Homo sapiens: one gene and its partners. The protein of the gene in region 1 interacts with the protein of each later gene in a pairwise test. Each region holds a gene or a part of one and is shown on either strand. Other genes may lie near its edges.

Region 1 (3,500 bases):
ACCATTCTTAAGTGTCAACACCCAGCAGAAAATACAAAATACAAATGTCACCACCACAATACCCACCTCAAATCACCAAATTGGGTAAAGTGTAACATGGATTAAGGAATGCTTTTGTGAACTCGTGGCTGATGGGATTGGAACTTATATGCCCTGTTTTGTTTACTTTTGGAAACTTTAACCACATTTTACTTTTTTATAAAAGTGATGTATTCATTTTCAGAAAACCTCAGTGAATCAGTATCCATAGGCAAACTAGCTACCGATGGAACTACTACTAATATTTTGATGCATTCTTTGTAACTTTGCTTCTAGTATACATGGTTAAATAAAAATCTGATCATAATTATACATACTAACTCATACTCTATTTTTACTGAGAAATATGGCATGAACTACTTCCCGTATTTACAAATATTCTTTCCTAATAACAGTTGCCACCTGGTACTTTATTTCATCTATGGATTGCAACCTATTTTACTCAGTTACTATTGTTGGTATTTGGGATACTGATTTTTTTTTTTTTTTTACAAAGAACGCTCCAGCAAACGTACTCTGAGTTAAAACTTTATGTACGCTTTTGATACCATCCTTAAATTCTCAGAATTTCTGGACAAAAGCATACATGTGCTTTGATTAGATGAGGCTCTAATCGTTTCATTCCCATAACTGCACTTAAGAGTCCCAGATCCTCAAACTCTTGATTTTAGGAGTGTAAAAATGGTCTATTTTTACATGTTTTTTTATATAAAACAACAGGGTCTCACAATTTTAATTCACTTCATTTCAGTTGTTAGTAAGCCTGCATTTTTTTCAAGATTTTTAGCCATTTAAATCACATTGATTGATAAAACACTTTATATATTAAATGTTGCAAATATTCTCTCCCCATTTAACAGTCATCTCTTAGATTTTCTTTACAGCATTTTCTAATCTATAAGAAGTTATTTTTATAAAGCTAAACCTATTGGTTTTTCCTTTCTATTTCTGTTTAGAAAGTTCTCTTTCCTCATTTCAAGGTTAATATTCATCTACATTTTTTTTCTATATTTCCTAGGGTACATTTAAATCTTTACTTCTTCTAGAAAGTATCTTCATCTGTGTGAAGGCAAAACTATTATTTTCCTCCCAAATAATTGTCAAGTGTTCCTAGCACTATGTCTTGACTCCTCCCATCATCCCTTTGTTAATTTGACACGCTTATTGTGTGTGAAATTATTTTATATACTGGGAACTGTCTCTGGACTTCCTAATTTGCTTCATTGGTGTGTGTGTGTGTGTGTATCCTGGTATCACACTGTTTTAATTATTGAAGTTTTGTGGTATTGATAACTTGTCCACAAGGACATGTACAGGGAATTTTCTGAGGAAGAAACACAAACCAGCAATAAACATGTGACAAGATGTTTGACCTCACTAGTAATCAGGGAAGTACACATTAAAACAATGAGATGACATTTTTTACCCATAAGATTGGAAAAGAACAAAAACAACATTAAAGACTGAGAATATCCAACATCGATGAGAATATATGATAAACAGACTCATATTCTATTGGCAAGAGTATAAACTGACACCACTTTTTAGGAAAATGGGCACTACCGATTGTGATTCTAAATGCCAATCCTCAAAGGTTTCACAATTCCATTATCTAACCTACACAATAGTCCCAAATGTGCAAAATGACAAATATGTATCTTTATGTATATTTTTGTATCCTGACACAGTATGATCCTAATTATGTAATTAAAACCCCCAAACAATAATTCTGTGTCAGATGACTGTATTAGAATGTGCTTACATGACACACAGAAATAGTGTGGAAGGATTGGGCCCAGGGTGGTGGGGCAGGATCCTAGTGTTTAAATGCTTTACAATTGGAATGTACTTGTGTATTATTTGTATAATTTAAAGTTTTTTACTAACTAGCAAAACAAAGCCTCCATTTTTACCCCGATTTTTCAGACTGGTTTAGGCTGGACAAGCTGATTGATTCTTCCAGATTCATTTTCATCAAATTCTCTTCCTCTGCAACCACCTTCCCATCTCCTCCAAAAAGACCCACAGAAAGTTTGCTGGGAATTATATAAACAATGTATGGGTTTGAGGGGAATGTGCTGTTTTGATGAAGACTAAAAGTAAAATCTGTGGTTAGGGCATGAATTATACGTAAATGAAAACTGGGTTCTAAGAGAGTCTGAAGAGACTTCGTTGTATCAGCTAAACATTCCCTCTGTCAACTTCTAACACCATCAATTTGCTCCGCAAATTCTCTCTTCAGGGAAAGTTTCTGCTCAACCCCTGATCAAAGCTACCACGATGGCCTGAGTATTAGCTTCTGAATTATTCAAGGTTTCTCTGTACAATAAGGGCAAGAGGAACCACCGAGTCTTCCAAACAGAAACGGCCCACCATGGGTGCTAGAAGCTGGCAAGCCTCCAGACGCAGGGCCAGGCCCTTGGCAGCCTTAATTCCCACCACAACTAGGAGCACGCAGGCTGGCCTGTAGCATGAGGAGGGAGCTGGGGGTCTTCCTCCCCAGGGATGTCGCACCTCCCCTTCCAGGGAAACAAAACCCAAACACCTCTATGCTCAATTGCAGGAAATAGATATTTGGTATCTGATTTACCCATGAGAAGGAATACACACAAGAGGTTCAGATGCCCTCTCGTGTTATATAACAATGCAACAGGTCCCCGCTGAAAGACAGTGGGAATTTGTACTGAGATCCAGAGAAACGGGCCAATCCCTCCCTTCCCCCAATTCTGTGCTCTGTGGGTACCAGAGGCTCAGAGAATGGCACAGCTGTCCTGTTCTCCACATTTGAATAGGCCGGACTCAGTTTTCTCTGAGTTTTTGGTATTCTCTGGTCACACATTTGCACAGGCTGCCAGAGGGGGTTATTTTGTACTTCATTGGCAAATGTCACTTCCCATGGACTTACATTTTTGTTCAAGAACTTGCCCTGGTACCTGTGGTTCAGGTGAATGAGCTCGGCCGTGCCCTCCTGCTGTCCGTTCACCCAGGTGCCAACATACTTACTGCCCGTCTCCGCGTATAAATAGGTGCCTTGCCCATGCCTGGTTAAGACAAGGGGAACATGGTATTTCGTTCCAGCACAGTGAAAAATCTCCCAGGTTTAAAACACAGACATTGACATTGAGGGAGGCCCAGGCTGTTGCAGGCTCACAAGCGATGTAGCTTCTATATCTGTGTCCAGTCAGAAGGTGCCCCTTGCTCAGTGTGCCCCAAGCACAGGACATTGCCAGAGGCACAGAGGACAGGCCAGCTGGACAGAGGCAAGCCTCCTGTGTGTCAGCTGCTTTCCCCAGGGAAGAGGCAGAGCTAGTGGGAGCTGTGGCTCAGGTCCCCCAGTGGCTCTTCTGTGCCCTCCACTCCCTGGGACTCTTGGGTGAAAGACTCACGTGCTCTGCCCCAACTGAGGTGCAGATGTCAGATACTTGAGTCTACACTTGCACAGAAAGGCATCCTTGCCTCAA
Region 2 (3,500 bases), on another chromosome or scaffold:
AGGCTAAGGCAGGAGAATCGCTTGAACTCAGGAGGCAGAGGTTGCAGTGAGCCAAGATCGCGCCAGTGCACTCCAGCCTGGGTGACTGAGCGAGACTCCATCATCAAAAAAAAAAAAAAGAAAAAAAGAAATATTATGTTAGAATCCAGTTTTTATTCTAAAACCTTACCAAAGTGAAAGAAATAGCATTGATGGATAGAATTCAGATTATCTGAGCAAAATTCCCTACCTACTGTCTCAACACCAAACCAAAGTTGGGTTGAATCAGATGCAGTGTTGAGTAGAAGATTTTGGTAACTCACCAATAAAGTGATTATTCCCCAAGGCGAGCATCTCCTCCAGGAGGACCAGTCCCCCTGAAGCCTGAAGGGGGGTCACACTTCGTCCATCTATGAGGGAGCACTGTTGGAATCCTGTGGCCGTGACCTTCCAGAGCAAAATCAGTGAGGCAGTGGCATCTTGCCGAATCCTGGAAACAGGAATGATGTAAACAGAAAGCTCCTTTCAGAAAAATTCATCTTAGAACCAGTTCTTCAAATTAAAAATAAATACAAAGATGGTATGTGCATCTACCAAGGTACCAGGAGATCGATGGCATAAACAGATACGCGGGCGTCCACTGTAAAGGCGTACACTCCCACTTGTTCACAGTGTACCACAAAATGAGTCACTGGTAACTCACCTTTGAGTAACCACTTTGATGAACAGTAAAAGAGTACACTGAGTTCTCTTTCAGACAAATCCTTCCATAGCCACACAATATAAAAAGAGTTTTGCTTAAATTTGTCATAAACGTGGACTGCAACCCAACACAGCCACCTGAGTTATGCTGCCAAAATAAGCAAAAGTGTGTCACCTTTCCCCAACACCCCCCACCCACCCACCCACACACACACACAATCACATACAATCCACCTCCCAATGCTTCAGGCCTCCCCTGGCTCATTTTTGGTAAAAAAAAAAAAAAAAAAAAAAAAAAAAAAAAAAAAAAAAAACACACAAAACCACCCCACAGAGAATAGGATGTCACAGAAAGCCCATCAACCCCAACCCCAACCCCAGCTGCCCTCCTGCGCTTTTCTCCTCACAGCCCAATGCTTCAGCTACTACGAGCTACCCCAACCCAGTTCTTTCTCACCTCCCAAGCTTTGTCTCCTTCTCCACCTTGGAAATGTGTTCCTAGCCCACATATTACCTCTTCCCAGAGACTCCTGACCACTTCCCAACATCCCAACAGCTGCCCATTCTCCCCAGTGCTCCTGGAGAAGATCACAGTAGACTCCGCACAGATCCGCTCCCCCAGCACAGGGCTCCTGGCGTGCAGCAGGGGCTCAGTAAAGCTTTGATCAGTGACTAAATTCATGAGGAAATGAAAGCGTAAGGAGCTAGTAACCCCCACAAGTGAATTCAGTGCCCTCAGGTCATTCGGCACTCCCATCTCACTTCGTCTGAGTCAGACTCTGCTAATTCGGTCCCGTTCTGCAGCTTAAGGGAGTCTCAGAGAATGGCAGGTTTGTTGAGAGGAAAAAAACAAAAGCATTTAACGAGATAGAAGACCAGAAAATTTGGAAAGGTTTATCAAGGTAAGATAATATGATCTAGACAAGAAAGGGCCGAGAGATGTTTTAAGAGTAAAGGAAACTAGAGATCCTGCTCCTAAAACTAGCCCAGGACGGCAGGGGTTTCAGCTGTAGTCTGAGCAGTGAAAGAAACGCTTAGGACCGGGGTCCCCCTGCTGGTAGAGCTCGAAGCTGCCTCAGGCTTCACCTCTCCCGCCTCTCCGGATGGGAGCGTTCCTCCTGAGCCCAGGAATTCCCAAGCAGCCCTTCCAGGCTCTTCCCCTGCCAGAGTGAGTTCAAGGCTGTGGTGACCCAGGGTGCAAGAGCAATGTAACAAAGTCCCTCTTCCAAACATGTTCAGGGACTCCACTGTTTAGAAAGCCAGGTAGACAAAAATGGCGATGGATACATGGAAGAGACCTACAGTGCCCGCAGGCCCCTTAAAAGGGAGCCAGTGCAACAGATTGGTTAACCAGGCCACGTGTTCCCAGTCTTCTAAAAATCCCCAAAGACTGGACAGCAAATGCCCCTTAGGTTGCATGGAAAGTGTGGGGAGGGTGGTAGTCAATGGCAACTGAAAAGGATGGGCAGTGGGGGGTTGTCAGCCGGCCTGGGGCACCCTAATACTGGCCCATACCCCACCCCCAGCTTTGTGCTCCTGGGCACCTGCTGACTTGAGCCTCATATAAAGCACCACACATATCAGGTCTCAACCAGCACTGCTTCCCTATGCCTCTCCCTCTTCCCCACCGGTGACAATGGACCCTGTCATTTAAAATAGCTTGAATTTTAAACAAAACACTCTCTTTGTACGCTTGCTTTTAAAGAGAAAACTGTAAAAATAAATAAATAAATAAAAATTATAAAAAATAAAGAGAAAATTGTAATATGTAGAATTTAAATTTGGGGCAAAGTATGCATCTGAATGTAACTGATGGTCCAATAAAATCTTAAGAGGCCAATAATTTGGGAAGCAAAGCATTTGGGAGACAAGGAATCTGGCTGAGATCTTATCTAAGGCCTCACGGTTTGTCACCTCACACCAGACTCATCCAGTCCAATTTCTCAATTCCACTTGTCCAGCCTGAAAACCCTCACTGTAATTGCCTCTGAAATCGCTTCCTCTAGTTTTCAAATGGCAGGGGCCACATCTACCCGTGGAATCTGTTCACGATTCTCACTTGACAGGCCACTTACACACCAGGTCCGCGGATGGACACAACCCCACTTATAGGTCATAGCATCACTCTTAACAGTTTGTAACTCAGAATTTTCTTACTTGACTGAGGTGTTCTGTGGCACTTCAAAGGATACCAGGCGGCCACCCGCAGAGCTGTTAGAACTGGCATTCCCACAGGCAATATCTGGGATCACCTGGGAAGGGAAAAAAAAAACGACATATGATTGGGGTTGTTTATAGTATAACATAATGTGATAAAGCAAAATTCCATGCTGAATTTCCTTCATCCCTTTTGATGATGCGGGGGTAGGGCTAGAGAGGAGATGAAGAAGTGAAGCCTTACAAACTCAAAAGAAAATGAAATCTTTGTCATTTGATGTTCTGAAATGCAACAGCTTCCCTGAGAGCAATCTACAAATTCCTGGGATTGTTAAAACTGATCAATAGGATATTGCAGGACAGGAAGCAGATGTCACTCCCTGCTCATTTTCCATTCATTTAACAAGCAGTCATTGACCCCTGCACTATGCTTAACCTGATGCTAACCAGGAGGCCAACTTTAAGGACTAACTTACAAACAGCAGGTAAAAGCCTAATGACTAGGCAAGCCAGCCTTCGACTTGCAAAGTGCATGCAGTATCAGGTCTGATGACTCTTCTGTGTGCTGATGGGTCCAGGAGCACATGCTAAGGCTGGGGAGCTTGAACGCTGCCTTTCTTTTTCCTTGTAGGCTATACCTTCGCTTTTAAATTATTTCCCAA
Region 3 (3,500 bases), on another chromosome or scaffold:
CTTCTTGTTTCAACATTTCTACCTCTCATGGTGAAAGGGGTAAGGTGTGTCTCTCCATTTGTTGTTTTTTAAATACAAGGTCTTGCTCTGTCACTCAGGCTAGAGTGCAGTGGTGCAGTCATAGCTCACTGCAGCCTTGGACTCCTGGGCTGCAGTGGATCCCCCCATCTCAGCCTCTTGAGTAGCTGGGACTACAGGCATATGCCACCACACCTGGCTAATTTTTAGAATTTTTTGTACAGATGGGGTTTTGCCATGTTGCCCAGGCTGGTCTAGAGCTCCTGGCCTCAAGTGATCCTCCTGCCTCAGCCTCCCAACTGCTGGGATTACAGGCACGAGTCTCCACACCTGGCCTCAAGCCTCTTTTTTTAAGAGCACCTATTGCATTCATGGGACCTCTACTTTCATGACCTAATCAATTCCCCAAAGCCCCACTGCTAATACCATCAGCAGAGGGGTTGGATTTCAACCTATACATTGGTGTCGGGGGAGGGGACATAAATATTCCAACCATAGCACTATACCACAAAAATCACATTAGAATATACTATTTCCTCTCTTGGAAGCCATCGCTGACCTGAGAATCAGCTCGGTCCATCAGTAACAACAGCAACTCATAATTCCCCTCTTCATCCTCATCACTACCACCCACTCCCATCATCTCAGAGTTAAGTGACTTGTTCAAGATCACAGCATTAGGTTTGAACCCATATCTCTTGGACTCCAGGGTCTGTGTCTTTTTTATTATGGTGTACGGCTTTGAAGAGCCCATTCCATTTTGGCAATGTGAACTCACCAATTTATGACACTAAGCTAAACTGGGAATAGGTGAGACCAGACAAGGAAACTGACACCCAGAGGCTTATACCCACTAAGACTTGTCCTGAGCTCCAGACCCCAGGTGCTATACTGTATCCACCTACCTTGTTCTAATCTCCAGCCCCAAAACATCACCAGTCCCTACTACTTGCTCCGGGCTGGCACCAACTACATTAGCTATGCCTCACTCAATCCTTCCCTGCTCTCCACATCCCAGATCCCCAGTGGGTTTCTCAATCAGCCACTATCCATGACCCATGGTGAGAGTGAGGAAGCCTAGGAGGGATACCTAGCCTGGGCCTTGGGTCTCCTTGAGCCTCTTCATTTAACTCTTGCTTGCTTGACTCAAGCCAGATGCTTGGATGGCACCATTCCCCGGTGCAAGCTTATCTGCTGGTGCCTTGAAGATTCAAGTGCCAAGTCAGCAGAGGAGGGAGCTATGGCTTGATTTCCACTTCTACCAAAGCCTCTTTCATGCAGTCAGTCTTCCATGGCCACATAATGTAAATGTCCCATGTGGGTAATAGACGCCAGTGGTTTACTGAAAACAGATACCCTTAAAACTTCCATTGCCACACTCCTTGGGTCTCAGGACATAAACTTGAGAGGGATAGGGATTCCATTTTTCTTGAAAGTAGGTGGAAGTCACTTTAGCATGGGAGTCAGAAGACATGAGTGAGGGGTTCAAGTCCTGGCTCTGCCACTCACAGTTGGGACTTTGAGTAAGCCCTTTCTTGTCTCTGGGTCTCTTTCCTCAATAAAATGAAAATATCAGGGAGAGGATTGAGGCAGATAAGAATCCCAAATAACTGCTAGAATCTGATTAATATTACAGACACCAAGGAGGCCTACTCTAACTATACAACCTCTCTCCCATATCATATTATCCCTGAGAAGTGGGCAGATCATAGACCCTCACTCCTATGCAAGGCCCGGTGCCAGCTCAAGGTGACAAAGTGGCTTGACTAAGGATACACATCTAATAAGAAGCAACAGACTGAAACCCAGGCTGCTCTGACTCTAGAGCCTGGGTTTTTATTCACTTTGCTATACTGTCCCAGTTTTCAGCTGGGCATTTGCTGTTTTTGCAGCTGCCAGAGACCTAAGAGAAGGCAGATTCAACAATAAGCAGTAGGATGTCCAGAAGGTTTCTGCTTTGAAATGAGCTTAGGCACAGGGCAAACAATTGCATCCAATATTTCCTTTGGAAAGAAAGATGGCTTTAGTGAGGACCCGATGAATGGCCTATCTTGTGGTTTTGTGTTTGCACAAAGGTTTTTTCTTTTCTCTTTACAAAGTGTATTTCTCTCCTCCCACTTTTTAATTTTTCTTTCTCTTCCTCCTTTTTTGTAGAGTTACTTAGTGATTCCACATCTATTATCTCATTGGTTTTCCTCTACAGCAATCCTATGAGGTTGGACACTATTATTATTCCCATTTTTCAGATAAAAAATCAAGGTTTATACAGGCTGCCTAAGACCACACAGGATAGGAGAGTCAGGAATTAAATTCAGATGTCAGGACTCTAACTTCACCTCCCCAAAACTAAGATTAAGAGGAAAAGTCATTTAACATAATGGGTTGAGAATTTATACCTGATTAGATACAGGCTAAGGGGCATATGAATGAGTAAGATTCAGTTGAGGTTTTCTAAGAGTTCATTGTTTAGGGGGAGGGAGTTATGTAAATTGGCAACTCAGGCATTATCAGTGTATGAATTACCCATAGTAGAGGGATAAAATGTGATAAGGGGTCAAGAGGATCATTCATAATTGGCATAGACAGGAGAGAAGCAAGAGAAGACTTCACAGAAAAGGAGAATTAGGACTGGGTTCTGAAGGATGAATAGAAGTTTACCAGGTTAATAGTAGAGCAATAATGGCAAATTTTTATTGAGTGCTTGCAATGAGCTATGAATATGCACATATATTGACGAGTCTTAACAATCTTGTAATGTAAATCTAATCCTCTCATTTTATATATCAGGCCAAAACAGGCCTAGAGAACTAAAGTAAATAGCTCAAGATCATACTGTTAAAATCAGCCAGTTGGGAACTTGATTTAGTCCTCTCTACACAACCAGCCATGCGCTCCTCTAGGATGACAGTCCAGGCTGCAGGAATAGCATGAGTAAGATGAGAATAAGGCTCACGCACAAGCCATCAAAGTAGGTATGAAAGAGGCTGGGATAAACTGTTTTCTGTCTCAGAAAGCTGACTTGGGACACCTGGCATTTGCCACTGGATGAGAAAGCATCTCTCCTCTTGGAGTCCTGTCAAACCACCTTGATCTCCAGGCTTGCATCAGCTCTCCATTTCCATTTTGCTCTGTGCTATGTGATACCCACATCTTCATGCCCCAGTATTTAGAACAAGCGTGGGCTTTGGAATCAAAAGTTCTGGGGTTGAATCCTGACTCCACCGCTCATTGTCCATGAGACCCTGAGCAAGTGCTTGTACCGTTCTGACCCAGTTGCCTTATCTGTAAAATCTAGTTTATCATACCACCTGATAGGAACACATGAGGATCAAATACGTGAATACAGGAAAAGCACAAAGACAGCCCCCTGGCACAGAGTAGGTCCACAATCAATGGCAAACAGCAGTGTTATATTTGCTATAATGCTGGCTATAACCAGCCCAGGAAGAAACACATGGGGGTGTTTGAGGTCTTCAGCCTTC
Region 4 (4,055 bases), on another chromosome or scaffold:
GGCAGTGTCTGCAGGTTATTGTTGGCCAGCGAGCTGCAAAAGAGACCGCCAGGTCATCTGAAGATCATGAGCAAGGCCAAAGGCCACAGGAGAGGTGGGGCTTTGGTGCAGTGTGTGTATGTGTGACGTACTCACAGGTGAGTCAAGGACTTGAGTCCTCGGAAGGTGAACTTGGATAGTGCCCAGATGTCATTGTTCTCAATGAAGCTGGGGAAAGCGGGAACTTGCCTCAGTGCTCACACAGGATGCCAGACCCCCAGCAGCACTCGCCCTACGCCCCAGCCTAGATTTCAGCCCGTGTCCCCGAGACAGGTTTCCAAATGGAGTCTGGCATCACCAAGCCATAGAGATAGAGCATCAGGTAGGGTAGAGGCAAAATGAATGAAACGACCTTCTGCTCAGGTCCTGCCATCACGGGATGCAAGGGCTCTCGCCTCCCATCACCTTCCCTTCCTGCGGCATTCTCATCCACTCCCTACCCAGTCCCTCGGCCTCCCAGGCCTGGGGTCCCCCTCCCTTCTGCTTTCCCATTGCCCCTTTCCCTCCCACACACAGATACTGCAGGTGCGACAGTCCTGTGAAGGCGTTGTCTCCAATCAGTGTAAACTTGTTGGAGTTGAGTAACCTGCAGAGACAAAGGTGGAATTAGAGCTTCCAAGGGTGTGCCTGCTGCCCCAGCCCCCAGCCCGCTGCCTCAGCCCTGGGCTTCCCCAAGACATGACTGCCCTGCTGCTACCCCTGGGGACCCCATGGGGAATCCCTGGGCCACCTGGGCAACAAGGCCAGGCAGGAGCCTGTTCTGGCCCCAGAAGCTCCCAGGGTCCCTGTTGGATCCTAAACATGGGCCAAGGCAGAGCTCTCTTGTCAAGCCAGCTCCTGGTCCTCCCGGGTGGCATCTCCTCTCCCTCTCCCCCACCCTCATTCTGTCCCATTCCAGCCCCTCATGGACAACTGTCCCTCATGGACGGCATCTTGTAGGGTTGGAGACACTCCTGCCATCCCTTTCTTTCAGCCCCCAGCTCTTTCTGGGAACTCTGATTCCTGGGATCACCTGTCTCTAAGATGGCCCCACAGTGCCCACCTTGGGCACTAGCCCAGGCTATCGCACCCAATTCTCTGGGGTTTCCAGAGCAGCCAAGCCCATCCCCGCATCCCACTTGCTTGGCTTCTCTGTGCCATCCCTAGCTGTCCTCCTGCTGCCCCGACTCCCCTGACTCAAGGCTGCCCCGTCTTTTGGGTACATCCTATCAGAACAAAAGCAAGGGACACCTGCATCTTCGTCTGCAGAGGCTGCCTCTGTCCACTCTCCCTCTCCCCAGCCCAGGATTTGTCCCCTGCTACCACCCCATAGTTCCCCCAACCCTTCCACAAGGCCCTATCCATACAAGAACTGCAGCAGCGGGAGGTGGGAGAACGCTCCATCCTGGATCTCTGAGAAGGCGGCATTCACCAGGGTCCTGCGGGGACACCCGAGTCAGTACTGTGGGGTCTGCAAGGGCTGTGCTGAGGCAGGGAGAGGTGAACACGGAGGGCAGTAGCTTTTGTACTCACTTGCCCTGGAAATGCCCCATTTCACCTAATTTAGCCCCCATCTGTGTGTCTTTCCCTTCTCCTCCCAAATTCACTGCCTGCCTTCACCAGGGTCCTCCCCTATTGCCTCTTGGGGCACCCATGGCCCCAGGCTCAGCTTCCCTCTCAGGCAAGAAAAGGTTCCATCACCCACACCGTTGTCATCATCATCCAAACACCCACAATGGGCTGGGTGCTGTTGAGAGATGGGGCATGGGGGTGGGGGCTGGCATCCTGGTCCCCAAGGACCTCACAACCTCTCTGGTCCCACAGACAAGGGGGAGCCCCTGAGGCTGGCTGTTGTGAGTGACAGGCTGGCCGAGCTGAGTGCCAAGTGGCTGGTCAGTGGCGGGCATGTGCCCCATGCCAGGGTGCTGGGAGGGCATAGCTCATTCTCATCCTGCTCTGGCCGCCACTCTCCTGCCCTTGGTGTGACATCACAGGCAGGGGCCCACATGCTCGTGTAAGCAACCCCCCCAAGTCTGGAGCACAGCACACAGTAGGTCTCACTGTCGCTCGTGGTGATGATGATTCATTCTTGGTGGTGAACTCCTGCTTTCCCCACCCATGGCCGCTGAGCCTGCAAAACTGCAGAACTCCCTGCCCGACTGGTGCCTGGAATCTCCAGCCCTGAGGACCCCTGCAGTCCCCCTGGTCCCCGCACTCTGAAGAGGGGGAGCGGGGGTTCTCCTGTCCTCTCCCAGAGCTGTCCTCGGCCTCCTCTCCCTCCCCAACCCCCAAGGCCAGGGCTGGACACTCACAGGGAGATGACCTCCGAGGGCAGGTTCCTGGGCACCGCCTTTGAGTCCACGCAGAAGGCGGTGTCCCTGGTGCAAGAGCAGCTGGGCGGGCAGGGGGGCGTCTTGGGGGGCCTCTTAGCGCTGACTTGCAGCATGAGGCAGAAGCCGAGCGCGGAGAGCGCCAGCAGCCCCGGCCCCGGGCCCCCCCTGGCCCGCAGCCCCGCCATGCTGCCCGCGATCTCTCCCTGGGGCCGGCGGCCGCGGCCCCCGCCCCACCGCTCCCGCGGCTGGGCCACCCCGCGCGGGCTGGCACCTCCCTGCCACCGGCAGCTGCTACCGCAGCCAGGGGCCCGCCTGCGGACTCCTCCTGCCCTCGGGCGCCGGCTGCGGTCCCCTCCCCTGCTCGCTCCCGCGATCCGGCTCGGGAGAGAAGAGCGGAGCGCGGAGCTGGAGCCGCAGCCGGGGCTGACCGCGCCGGGTGGCTGCGGACTGCGGCGCGGGCGGCGGGGGCGCGCGCGGGGCGGCGCGGGGCCTGGGAGTCACGGAAGGGGAGGCGTGGCCGCTGTGTGCTCTACCGGGCGGTCTCTGGGGCCATCCGCGTGTGGGGCTGCGCGTGAGTGCATGCGTGTGAGCTTGTGCTTGTGCCTCTGCTGGGCACGACTGTGCGCGCCGGTGCTCACCTGTCTCTGCACGGGCACATGCACTCACTGCCTTGTGGAGGCGCTTCGGCGTTAGGGATCCCTGTGCTTCTGTCTACCTGGGTTTCTTTGCATGGGGGGACACATCCCCTAGGCAGCATCATGGGCATGTCGTGAGTGACAGACGCATATCTAAGTTAGCATGCAAGATTAGAAGCACAAGGGCGTCCTGGAGGAGTCTGAAGTGCGCTTCTAACCGGATTCACATGTTTTTCCACGCGCCGCTGAACAGAATGTACCTTTGTGTCAGCATGAGCTGAAAAGGGAAACGCAGCCTCTGGAGCTGGAGTGGGACTGTGTGGAATTCTGGAACATTTCTCACGCTCAACCACAGCCTGTTAAAGCTGGGAAGCGCTTTGGATATTTTTCAGTCCAGCCCTTTGTCTAACAAATGAGGAAACTGAGGCCCCCTAAGCTTGCTATCGCAAGTGCTCTGTACTTTCCCTACTTAATCCTCTCAATCGTTTGAGGCAGGTGATAGTAATTCCCTTTTACAGACAAGAAAAGTGAGGCCTGTCGCACCAGAAGAAAAAGGTATCAGCAGGGATTTCCGCCCACTCTGCCCAGCTTCAAGGTTCACGGTCGTCCTTCCATGCACGGCTCTTCCAAGTGTAGCCCTGGGAGCCCGGGGGTCCTTGAGAACCTTTCAGGAAGTCTCTGAGGTAAAAACAATTTTCCTAATATTGTTAAGACATGATTTGCCCTTTTCACTTCTATGAAGCTCCAAATTTAAAAGATTTCCAAAACTGTAAAGAAATGACACTTTCTCTCTAATTTTATTTTGCTTTGTAAAATAATTTTGCTTTGTAAAATCGTTTTTCCATTAAAAATGTGATTTATGTCATAACCTATATTGGGTTTATTACTGATATTTTAAATTCACATGTAAATAAAAATGTAATTTCTCAGTAAATATCAACAGACATATCCCACATAAACAAAAGCTCTTGGGGGTCCTCAATACTTTTTGAGAGTGTTAAGGGGTCCTGAAAACAAAAAGCTTGAAGACTGCTGCTCTCTACCACGTTAGCTCCCCTGTGGCGGAGGA
Region 5 (3,500 bases), on another chromosome or scaffold:
TGTAGAGGTCAACTTGAAACAGAGTATTAAATATTAGTGGTCCCACTTAATAATATCTAGTATGTGTATGTTTATATATGTACACACACATGCACACCTGGTTTAAAGAAAGCAAGTTCAAAGCTTTTGGATCTCAAGTCCTTAAGAAACTCATGGTCATATTTGTTAATTATCCATTGTATGCAAAGCACCATACTGAGCTTGTGGGAAAGAAGTAAAATTGCTGGAAAGTACAAAATAGACATCATCCCTGGATTCAGGTACTATTAAAAGACATTATTATCTATATAACTAAAGCCCTCAGAGACTCTTGTATAATTTACAAGAGAGGCTTTGGGCTCTTTTTGTTTTAAAGCCTAAATGGAAAAAATGATGCAGCAGCCTGGGAGACTGGCTAACTCCCTCAGCAAGAATGCAGAAGACGTTCTTTACTGTGAGTCTACACGGTATTCCAGGACTCCCTCCACCTGACCAAAGGAGCTATTTAGGGATAAATTACATGAAGAAACAGCCAGGAAATACAGAACAACAAGCAGGCAACAGTGAAATACTATTTAAATATGCTTATTTTATAGTCTAATTGATGGTATAGCATAAATATCTGAATAGGAATTAAGAACTGGTGAATAATTTTCCTTAAGTTTAGAAAATTTTCTAAACATATATTGCTATAAATGTCACCTTTCAGAATATATAAAGTACATGAACTGTGTATCAGAGTAATGTTCTATGCCTCAAATTGTGGAATTTATAAAAATAAATATATTCTCTTTTAGAGCTCGAAATGAGTTGCTGATATTATGTGGTTACATTGGTGCATTACTGGCTATCAGAAGACAGTACCAAAGCATTGTTCCAGCACTTTATGAGTACACAAGGTAAAAAAGGTTTTTTCCTCCATCATGACATTAGAGCAATTTCTCTTGCTAAGATGGATAGTCTCTAAGTGGATTATACAAAGTATCAAATATATTATTACAAGTATCCATCTATTTACTCAGCGTGTGCTTTATAATAAAGCAGCACATAAATTAGGGATGCATTGGGCTGTAAATAATAATAATTTGAATACTAGCTTAAACTCCTAGGATTTATTGATCTTTCATGTCAAGACACTTGAGACAGGCTTTCTAAGGCTTTTACTGCCGTGCAGTGATTTCTTCAAGGACCTGATACTCCCTTCTTTCCACTATGACATTTTTTGGATTATTTCCTCTTGCTTGAGTATCCCATGGTTAGAAGATAGATGCTAGCCCTCCATGAATTACGACTACATTCTGAGTAGGAAAGAGGTAAGAGTGAAAGAGACCACAAAGGACTTTCTCCTGGCAAGACCATTTTATTCAGGAAGGAAAGTCCTCCTTAGGGTTTTATGCCCACATCTCACTAAAAGAAAATAGGAAACTGAATATTTTAGCTTTTCAATCTCTACAGCAGAAAAGGCAGAGTAAAGGGAGTTTGTAAGTAGCAGGTTACTATTTTAATATTTTATATTCAGGCATAACCTGTTAGCCATACTCCTACATTTTATAACAACTTGTTTAACTTCAGCCCTTGTACTTAAAACTTCTTATACTATAAAATAAAATTCACGGTGCCTTCCATAAAAACCTTCTTCCAAGTCTAGTAGTTAGCTAAATGGCTTAGTAGGTAACCATTTTAACAAATGCAGAGGGTCCGTGGTTAAGCAGTCTTTTATTTGTTTGTTTGTTTGTTTGTTTGTTTGTTTGTTTTTGAGATGGAGTCTCTCTCTGTCTCCCAGGCTGGAGTGCAGTGGCACAATCTCAGCCCACTGCAACCTCCGCCTCCCAAGTTCACACCATTCTCCTGCCTCAGCCTCCCGAGTAGCTGGGACTACAGGTGCCCGCCACCACGCCCGGCTAATTTTTTGTATTTTTCTAGTAGAGACGGGGTTTCACCATGTTAGCCAGGATGGTCTCGATCTCCTGACCTCGTGATCTGCCTGCCTCGGCCTCCCAAAGTGCTGGGATTACAGGCGTGAGCCACCATGCCCGGCCGGTTAAGCAGTTTTTCTGAGTTCATATGTGGCAGAGGATTCTAAGAGAAACAGGTTTTCTCATTCCTAACTTCTCCCTATTGCGTAGGTGAAGCACTAGCTGTCACCTAGTACAAATAAGGAATAATATGGAATTAATACTATCAGCATGCTCAGGGAAAAATCTCTTTCTACATAGGTAGCATAACCAAAATTGGAAAGCAACATTTAACAGTATTAAAAGATATTATAGGAGCAGTAGGATATATCACATAGATGTAAAATAATGTTTAATATGTTCAGCTATATATAATGATAAAAGTAAAGAGAAAAATTCTTAATTAAGCATTAAATTAATATCAAAAAGAAAAAGAACGGTTTTTATTTGCAAGGGCAGGAGAGACTTGAGAGAATGTGACTAAGTTTAGGGAATGTGTTAGCTTAGAAAGAGAAATTGATAATTTCCTAATATTAAAGAATGTATCGTCTCTGACAGTTCCATCTTTGTTGTCTTGCTGCTTATAATTATTTTCTTGACCCACTAAATATGTGAGTCCCCAAAGTTTCATTCTCTCGTCCTCTGCTTCCCTTTTTCCTCCTCTCCATCCCACTCTCCTCCCACGGCTCCACTCCCTCCCGTCTCCTTTCTATACGGTGTCCTTCAGAAACCTCACCACTTTTCAGCTTCACCTATCACCTCTATGGAGGTAACTCAGTGTCTTATATTCAGGCATAGCGTACTCTTCAAACTCCTATGTGTATATTCAGCAGCTTGCTAAACTCCAGCCTAAAGTCAGTATGCTCAGAATTCAAATCATCTTTCTTCTCAAATCTCCTTCTCCCGTGTTCTCTTTCTGTCATTCAAGATTAAATGATCAGGGTCATGGTTAAGTGTTCTCTCTCACTGTGGCTATTATTTAACATCACTTAACTTGTCCAACCATTCTTCATACATTATGCAGTTCATTTATTTATCCACTCACTCATTTACTCATCCACCCAATGTTTATTGAATAACTTTGACTTGCCAGGGACTGTGCTAAATATACAGGTGAGCATATATACGCATATACTAGAAAATATTCTATATGTATATTATATATAACGTATAATGTCTGTATACAGAAATATATAAATCTAAAATCACATTTAAAGTTTGTTTGCTTTTTCTGATATCTTAGTTTTTGGTATCAGATGTTAATTTCCTTTTCACACGTTCAGTCAGCTATTAAAACGTCGGGAGGTGTCAGTACCTTTAAAAATTGAATATCTTTCTGAGGAATTGGATGCATGGAGAGCTTGCACACAGTCCACCAACAGGTGAGCAAATATGATATAAAAATTGGAATGCAGAAGGTATTTGATGTTATAGACAAACTTGTTGGAAGTATGTGTGGTCTCATTAATTTTAGCAGAATAATGAATCTTGATTTGTTTGGCATATATGCAGTAATAATTTACAATACCGTACTTTTCTGCCATGTAGTCCTTTGTTTTACTATAA
Region 6 (3,500 bases), on another chromosome or scaffold:
TGCATCTCACAAAATTTTAATATGTTGTATTTTCATTAACATTTAGTTCAAAATGTTATCTAGTTTTTCTTGTGACTTCTTCTTTGACCCAATGATTATTTGGACATGCATTAATTTCCAGATAGTTGGTGTTTTCCTAGTTATCTTATTGTTATTGTCATTTAATTCCACTGTGGTCAGAGAACATACTCTGTATTATTTCATTCCTTTCATATTTGTTGCTTCTTGTTTTATGACCCCAAATGTGGTCTCTCCCAGTACAAATACCACGTGCACTGAAAAAGAATGTGTATTCTGCCATTTGGGGGTTAGATAAATATCAGTTAAGTCAAGGTGGTTGATGGTATTGTTCAGGTCTTCTGTATCCTTGCTGATTTTTTTTTTTTTTTTTTTTTTGGTCTAGTTATTCTTTCAGTTGCTGAGAGAGGGGTGTTAAAATACAGAAGTATGATTGTGGAATTGTCTTTTCTTCACTTTAATTTTTGTAGTGTTGGCTTCATGTATCTTGAAGCTGTATTATAAGACTTACTTCACTTATGACTATCATTATGAGAGATAAGAGAATTCCTGTTTGTCTCTGGTAATACATTTTGTTTTGAAATATATTTTATCTAATATTAATGTAGCAATTCCATCCTTCTTATACTTACTGTTAGCATAGTATATCTTCTTTCATCCATTTAATTTCAACCTGTCTTTACACTTAAAGTGAATCTCTTGCAGATATCATACAATTGGGTCTTGTTTCTTCATCCTAACAATCTTTGTCTTTTAATTGTAGTGTTTAGTCTGTTAATGTTTAATGTAATTGTTTATATGGTTCAGGAATGCACTTGTGCATAATATTTTATTTTTTACTTACATTTACCTCTTCTGTTTTTTAAATTCCTCTTTCCGGCCTTTATTTGGGTTATTTGAATACTTTTTATAACTCCATTTAAATTTTATTATTTGCTTTTTACATAATCTTTTTGCATTATTTTTTACAGTGATTTTCCTAAGGTTTACAGTATACATAAGTTTCCACAGTTTACTTACAGTTCATTTGTGTACTACTTCACATAAATCCAGAAATCTTGTAACCATCCCTCCCATCCTTTTTGTTATAGTTGTTATGTGTAATACATCTACATAACATTTTAAACTCAGAAAGACAATGTGATAATTTCAGTTTTAAACAGTTATATAGTTTATAAAAAAGGAAAAGGAAAAAGGCCAAATAAATAGTATTTTAGCTGTTTCTGACATGTAAGGACTTTAGAAGTCATCACTGTGTCCTAACAAGTAAAAAGCTGAACAAACTGAAAAATCAACAAATCTTAGCTCCATCAGAGAGGTGTGAGGTCAGAGGACAAATCACTGCTCTCAAAATTGGAGAGGTATGGCCGGGTGCGGTGGCTCACACCTGTAATCCCAGCACTTTGGGAGGCCGAGGCAGGTGGATCAGTTGAGGCCAGGAGTTCAAGACCAGCCTGGCCAACATGGTGAAACCCTGTCTCTATTAAAAACACAAAATTAGCTGGGCGTGGTGGTGGGTTCCTGTAATCCCAGCTACTCGGGAGGCTGAGGCAGGAGAATCGCTGAAACTCAGGAGGTAAAGGTTGCAGTGAGCCAAGATTGCACTACTGCACTCCAGCCTGAGTGACAGAGCGAGACTCTAAAAAAAAAAAAAGAAAAAAAAAAAACTCTGGAGAGATAAACAGGCAGATACAAAGAATCACAACCACATCTTGTGAGCAATAATCTCCCAGGGAACCGGTGGCCAGATGGGTAAGCCTAAAATGTAACTGGCAAATTGCTAGAGGCTCAGTGTGGACAACTCTGAAAAAAAACTCCAGGGGGACCCGGTCATGGGAGGACCCCATACTTTTGTGAGCTTTACCTCCAGGAGCTCTATTAGGTACTGACAGTGAATATCAGAGAAAAATCTCCTTGTGCTTCTGGCAGGAGGAAGTGAAAAGGGACCACTTTGGAATATACCATTCTGTTCTTAACAAGACCTGCCCTCAGGAGAAACAATTTTACCAGGGCCTAACCTGCTGGTGTTTTTATCAGAACTTAACCTTCCTGGGGGAAGGGAAATACCTAACACTAGCTACTTCTGGATATTCTGTCCCACCTAATGGCAGGTGGGGGAAGCTGAAAAGCACTTGGGAAGTTCATAGTCCAGGGACACAAGCTCAGCAAGACTGAGCCCTGCTCATAGTATCATAGAACACTTTCCCACCCCAACACCTGAAAACAGGATGAAAGCCCTGTTTACTGCAATTCCTTTTACCCAGTGTATCATGTCTACCTATCAACAGAAAATTACAAAGCATACTTAAAAGGCAGAAAATGCAGTTTGAAGAGACTGAACAAGCATTAGAACCAGAGTCAGTCGTGGCAGGAGTGTTGGAGTAATCAGACCAGGTATTTTTTTAAAACTATGATTAACGTGCTGAGGGCTTTAAGGGAAAAAGTAGACAGTATGCAAAAACAGATTGATAATGTAAGCAAAAGAGATTAAAATTTTAAGAAGCTGGATGTGGTGGCACATACCTGTATTTGCAACTCCTCATAGTGTAGCAGGATTGCTTGAGCCCAGGAGTTCAAGGCCAGCCTAGGCAGCATAGCGAGATCATCTTTCTTAAAAAAAAAAAAAAAAGAAAAAAAAGAAAAGAAAAAGAAATTTTAAGAATTTTTTAAATACTAGAGACCAAAAACACCATAACCGAAAGGAACAGTGCCTTTGACAGGCTCGTTAGTGGATGGTACACGGCCTCCAAGAGATTGTTATTTGAAAGTGGACTTGTATTAGCTGTAAATGCAGATTGCAAACCAATTTAAAAAGTTAAAAAAGAAGTATAGTTGATATGCTAAAAAAGGATACAAAATGGAATTACATATAATAGAATGCTCAGGTAAACCCACAAAAGGTAGAAGAGTATGGAAAACAGAAATAGGAATGAAGAACAAGGGCAAAAAGTAGAAAATGGTAACAAATGTGGTAGATGTTAATTCAGCAACATCAGTAATCACCTTTTTAAATTTTTTTTTTATTTTTTTGAGACAGTCTCACTCTGTCCCCCAGGGTGGAGTGCAGTGGCACAGTCCCAGTCTATTGAAAGCTTTGACCTCCCAGGCTCGAGTGATCCTCCCACCACAGCCTCCCAAGTAGCTGGGACTACAGGCATGTACTACCACACCTGGCTGATTTTTGTGTTTTGTACAGACAGGGTTTCACCATATTGTCCAGGCTGGTCTTGACCTCCTGGTCTCAAGACATCCACCCACCTTGGCCTCCCAAAGTGCTGGGATTACAGGAATGAGCCACTGTACCCAGCCAATAATCCCCTTTTTAAAAAGTTATTTATTTATATTTTTAGAGATGGGGTCTCACTCTATTGCTCAGACTAGAGTGCAGTAGCTTGATCATGACTCATGGCAGCCTTGACCCCCTGGGCTCAAGCGATCCTCCCACATCAGCATCCCGGGCAGCTGGGACTACAGGTGCATGT
Region 7 (3,500 bases), on another chromosome or scaffold:
CTAAAGGGACCTCAAAAAGGAGGGAAAATGGCTTCTGAGTCTGAAACTCTGAATCCCAGTGCTAGGATAATGACCTTTTATCCAACTATGGAAGAGTTCCGAAACTTCAGTAGATACATTGCCTACATTGAATCCCAAGGAGCTCATCGGGCAGGGCTAGCCAAGGTAAGGAGCTGGGATTGTTCAAATGGTTTTGTTACCTAGGGCAGAGCAGTAAGATTTTTTTCCTACATTTGGGCCGGAACTGTGTTTTACTGAAAGTTGGGTGGGGTGATGACTTTAGTGAATGCGGTTCTATTTGCAAGTTAATTCCCGTTGTTAACATCAGAAGCATCTCTGCTTTTAGGTAGGAAGAGAGCTACTTGGAATCTTCAGAAAGGGGGAGGTAAAGAGCTAGTGTCTCCAGGCCTGGCTGCTGTTGTGCCTCAGCCCTCTTGGTGGAGCTGGGTGCTGTGGTGTTATTGAACTGCCAGTGAGTGCTTATGCCATCTGACTTCTCTTGCTCTCATTTCAGTCTCATCCAGCACTCTAGTAGCAATTTGGCTTCCCATGTGGACTTTCTTCAAGGGGAGAGAATGCACTGGCCAGCCAACATGAGTATTCTGGTCCTTGTAATTTGAAATTGGTTTCTGGTTTGTACTTCTTTCTCCTGTGAGTTGGATTCGTTATTTTTCCTGAGTCAAATCAGCTTTTCATATATTCTGTCACAATCAGGTTGAGTGCTGGAAGCTGAAAGAACTGCATTTCTGGAGAGATCCTCAGGAAACTGAGAGGCAGGGACCTCAGTCTAAGCCAGGAGGAAATTTTTTACACCATTTTATGTTGTTTGAATTCCCTACCATATGTGCTTGTTACATTTTCAATATGAAAAGAGAAAGCAAGAACATTGGCTACAAAGCTGAGGACCAGTCTTGGACCCTGGTGCCTCCAGAGACTTGAGACGACCACATCCTCTTTCTTATCTGCAGATACGGCTACTGCTGGGTTAATAACAGCAGGCGGGAATAGCAGGGCCTGCAGTGCAGTTTTTCATAGCACATTGCTTTTTTTGGTTGTACTTTATTAGATTTAAAGTTACCAAAAAAATGTCGGTTATTACAAGTTAAATATTTCAAACGCAGATAAAGAAAAGGCTGATCTTCATCCACCTTCTCCAGTGCCGTCTCCTTAAGTGGTATTAGCTCCCTCCACACCTTTTTCTCTGCTCATACAAACATACACACATATAAAATAGTGTTATTTGTTTTGTTTTTAAAAGAGAATGGCATCATGCCATATACATTCCTGTGTTGGTTCGTTCATTCTTTTTTCTTTTTTTTTTTCTTTTTTCCTTTTTAACAACATATATTCCTCCCTCTAGGTCAATTATGGATTCAACTCATTCTTCTTTTTTCTCATGTCGACTGTCTTGTTAATTTATTACTATTGGAATGGGTAATTTGATTATGTGAGTAAAAACAGAATGCTATTGGAAGGTAGCTAATGTAGAGTCTTGCTCCCTTTCCGTATTTTCTTATATGTCCTTTCAGTGTTGCCTTATGCAGATGCTTGTGAGTGTGTGTGTGTGTGTGTGTGTGTGTGTGTGTGTGTGTTGTTTTCTCCCTTGTTACATAAAGTAAAACAATACTCTCTAATTAAAAAAAAAAAAGCTGTATAGTATTCCATAAAGCAGATCTATCTTACTTAACTATTCAAGATTAGATTTTTTTTGTTTTTTTTTGAGATGGAGTTTCGCTCTTGTTACCCCAGCTGGAGTGCAATGGCGCAATCTTGGCTCACTGCAACCTCTGCCTCCGGGTTCAAGCGATTCTCCTGCATCAGCCCCCCAAATAGCCGGGATTATAGTTGAGTGCCACCACACCAGGCTAATTTTTGTGTTTTTAGTAGAGATGGGGTTTCACCATGTTGGCCAAGCTGATCTCAAACTCTGACCTCAGGTGATCCACCTGCCTCGGCCTCCCAAAGTGCTGGGATTACCGGCATGAGCCACTGTGCCCGGCCTCAAGATTAGATTTTTAAGAATGTTATGCTTCTTTGTAATTAAACTGTAATCTAGTGTGTGAAAAAAGGAAATTCTGTACAAGTATAGAGTTGACCAAATCAAGTAAAGTTGTGTTTGTGATTTTTTTAAAGAGAGCCCTGGGCTAGGAGATTGAGAGAGAATCAAGTCTTTAATCTCCTTTCTTGGTGTCCAAATAAGATACTGAAGCTGGGAACAAGTATTACTTACCTTAGGTTGCTGCAATTAGGCAGCTGGTTGGTGGCAAAAGTGGATCAGGGTTAGCATGCCTGTGACTTACTGTGTTTTGGTGAATGTGGGTAAATCAAAGTAACTGTCTAGTAAAATTGACTGTTAGGTTGGCTGGTAACTACATGCTTCCTGGACTCTGACTGGCTTGCCAGGTTTCTCATCTGTCTTTTTGTTTCTTGTGTTCCCTTCAGGTTGTTCCTCCAAAAGAGTGGAAGCCACGAGCATCCTATGATGACATTGATGATTTGGTCATTCCTGCCCCCATTCAACAGCTGGTGACGGGGCAGTCTGGCCTCTTTACTCAGTACAACATACAGAAGAAAGCCATGACTGTTCGAGAGTTCCGCAAGATAGCCAATAGCGATAAGTGAGTGGAAACCCTTTCTTACCTGACATAGCACCTAGGACCCTGGTGTCTCATCCTCCTAGCATCTCCAGGACTGCTGCTGTCCTGATGAACAGTGTCTTCAGCAGGATGGCTCTGTTCTAGCTGTCTCCCTTTCTGCTTTTTTTATGGAAGCATTCCCTCCTCTCAGGACTGTGTCCCAGTCTAAACCTGTTCCTGTTCTTATAACAACAAATCCCATTGTTTTTCCATCAGAAGTAGAATCATTTTCTGACTCTAAAGTTGCAAGGAGAAAGTTGGATGTGGTGCACAAGGAGCTTTTGCTGGGTATTATCAACCACCTGCTCATCAAAAGTGCTTTAGTTCCACTTCCTCTCTCTCGGGATGCTCTGTGTTTAATTGTGCTGGAATTTCTCACTGCCCATCCAGCCTGCTAGCTCATTTCTGTTTTGACATTAACAGTGTGAGTAAACCACCAAGCTGGTTGCTATTTTCTGTCACTCCTTCTTTCTCTGTACATTCCTGTCTCTTTTAGAGATATCTTTCTTTGTGTAGGCCTGTTTTCAGTTCTTCTCTGCTGTTGGTTTTTTTTTTTTTTTTTTTTTTTTTTGAGATGGTGTCTCACTTTATTGCCCAGGCTGGAGTGCAGTGGAGTGATCTTGGCTCACTGCAACCTCTGTCTCCCAGGTTCACGTGATTCTCCTGCCTCAGCCTCCCAAGTAGCTGGGACTACAGGCACGCGCCACCATGCTTGGCTATTTTTTGTATTTTCAGTAGAGACAGGGTTTCGCCACATTGGCCAGGCTGGTCTTGAACTCCTGACCTCAAGTGATCCTCCTGCCTTGGCCTCCCAAAGTGCTGGGATTACAGGCAAGAGCCACCACTCCTGGCCCTTCTCCGCTG

What was found.
Region 2: the proteins of RSPH1 (region 1) and DNER interact in a two-hybrid assay, tested with the Homo sapiens proteins (one large-scale study listed by BioGRID and IntAct).
Region 3: the proteins of RSPH1 (region 1) and SEZ6L interact in a two-hybrid assay, tested with the Homo sapiens proteins (one large-scale study listed by BioGRID and IntAct).
Region 4: the proteins of RSPH1 (region 1) and LGI3 interact in a two-hybrid assay, tested with the Homo sapiens proteins (one large-scale study listed by BioGRID and IntAct).
Region 5: the proteins of RSPH1 (region 1) and WDR17 interact in a two-hybrid assay, tested with the Homo sapiens proteins (one large-scale study listed by BioGRID and IntAct).
Region 6: the proteins of RSPH1 (region 1) and ZNF251 interact in a two-hybrid assay, tested with the Homo sapiens proteins (one large-scale study listed by BioGRID and IntAct).
Region 7: the proteins of RSPH1 (region 1) and KDM4A interact in a two-hybrid assay, tested with the Homo sapiens proteins (one large-scale study listed by BioGRID and IntAct).

What each region holds. Positions count from the first base shown.
Region 1 is NC_000021.9:42,482,725-42,486,224, forward strand, and holds part of RSPH1 (radial spoke head 1 homolog), read right to left. Parts: intron 3,081-3,500; coding exon 2,945-3,080; intron 1-2,944.
Region 2 is NC_000002.12:229,585,556-229,589,055, forward strand, and holds part of DNER (delta and Notch-like epidermal growth factor-related receptor precursor), read right to left. Parts: intron 2,934-3,500; coding exon 2,839-2,933; intron 470-2,838; coding exon 303-469; intron 1-302. UniProt on the Homo sapiens protein: Activator of the NOTCH1 pathway. May mediate neuron-glia interaction during astrocytogenesis.
Region 3 is NC_000022.11:26,175,962-26,179,461, reverse strand, and holds part of SEZ6L (seizure 6-like protein isoform 1 precursor), read right to left. Parts: intron 1-3,500. UniProt on the Homo sapiens protein: May contribute to specialized endoplasmic reticulum functions in neurons.
Region 4 is NC_000008.11:22,154,007-22,158,061, forward strand, and holds the start of LGI3 (leucine-rich repeat LGI family member 3 precursor), read right to left. Parts: upstream 2,801-4,055; 5' UTR 2,537-2,800; coding exon 2,331-2,536; intron 1,458-2,330; coding exon 1,386-1,457; intron 626-1,385; coding exon 554-625; intron 208-553; coding exon 136-207; intron 34-135; coding exon 1-33.
Region 5 is NC_000004.12:176,173,841-176,177,340, forward strand, and holds part of WDR17 (WD repeat-containing protein 17), read left to right. Parts: intron 1-776; coding exon 777-878; intron 879-3,217; coding exon 3,218-3,316; intron 3,317-3,500.
Region 6 is NC_000008.11:144,749,032-144,752,531, reverse strand, and holds part of ZNF251 (zinc finger protein 251), read left to right. Parts: intron 1-403; coding exon of another isoform or gene 404-522; exon of another isoform or gene 523-621; intron 622-2,541; exon of another isoform or gene 2,542-2,628; intron 2,629-3,500. UniProt on the Homo sapiens protein: May be involved in transcriptional regulation.
Region 7 is NC_000001.11:43,653,149-43,656,648, forward strand, and holds part of KDM4A (lysine-specific demethylase 4A), read left to right. Parts: 5' UTR 1-27; coding exon 28-165; intron 166-2,442; coding exon 2,443-2,618; intron 2,619-3,500. UniProt on the Homo sapiens protein: Histone demethylase that specifically demethylates 'Lys-9' and 'Lys-36' residues of histone H3, thereby playing a central role in histone code. Does not demethylate histone H3 'Lys-4', H3 'Lys-27' nor H4 'Lys-20'.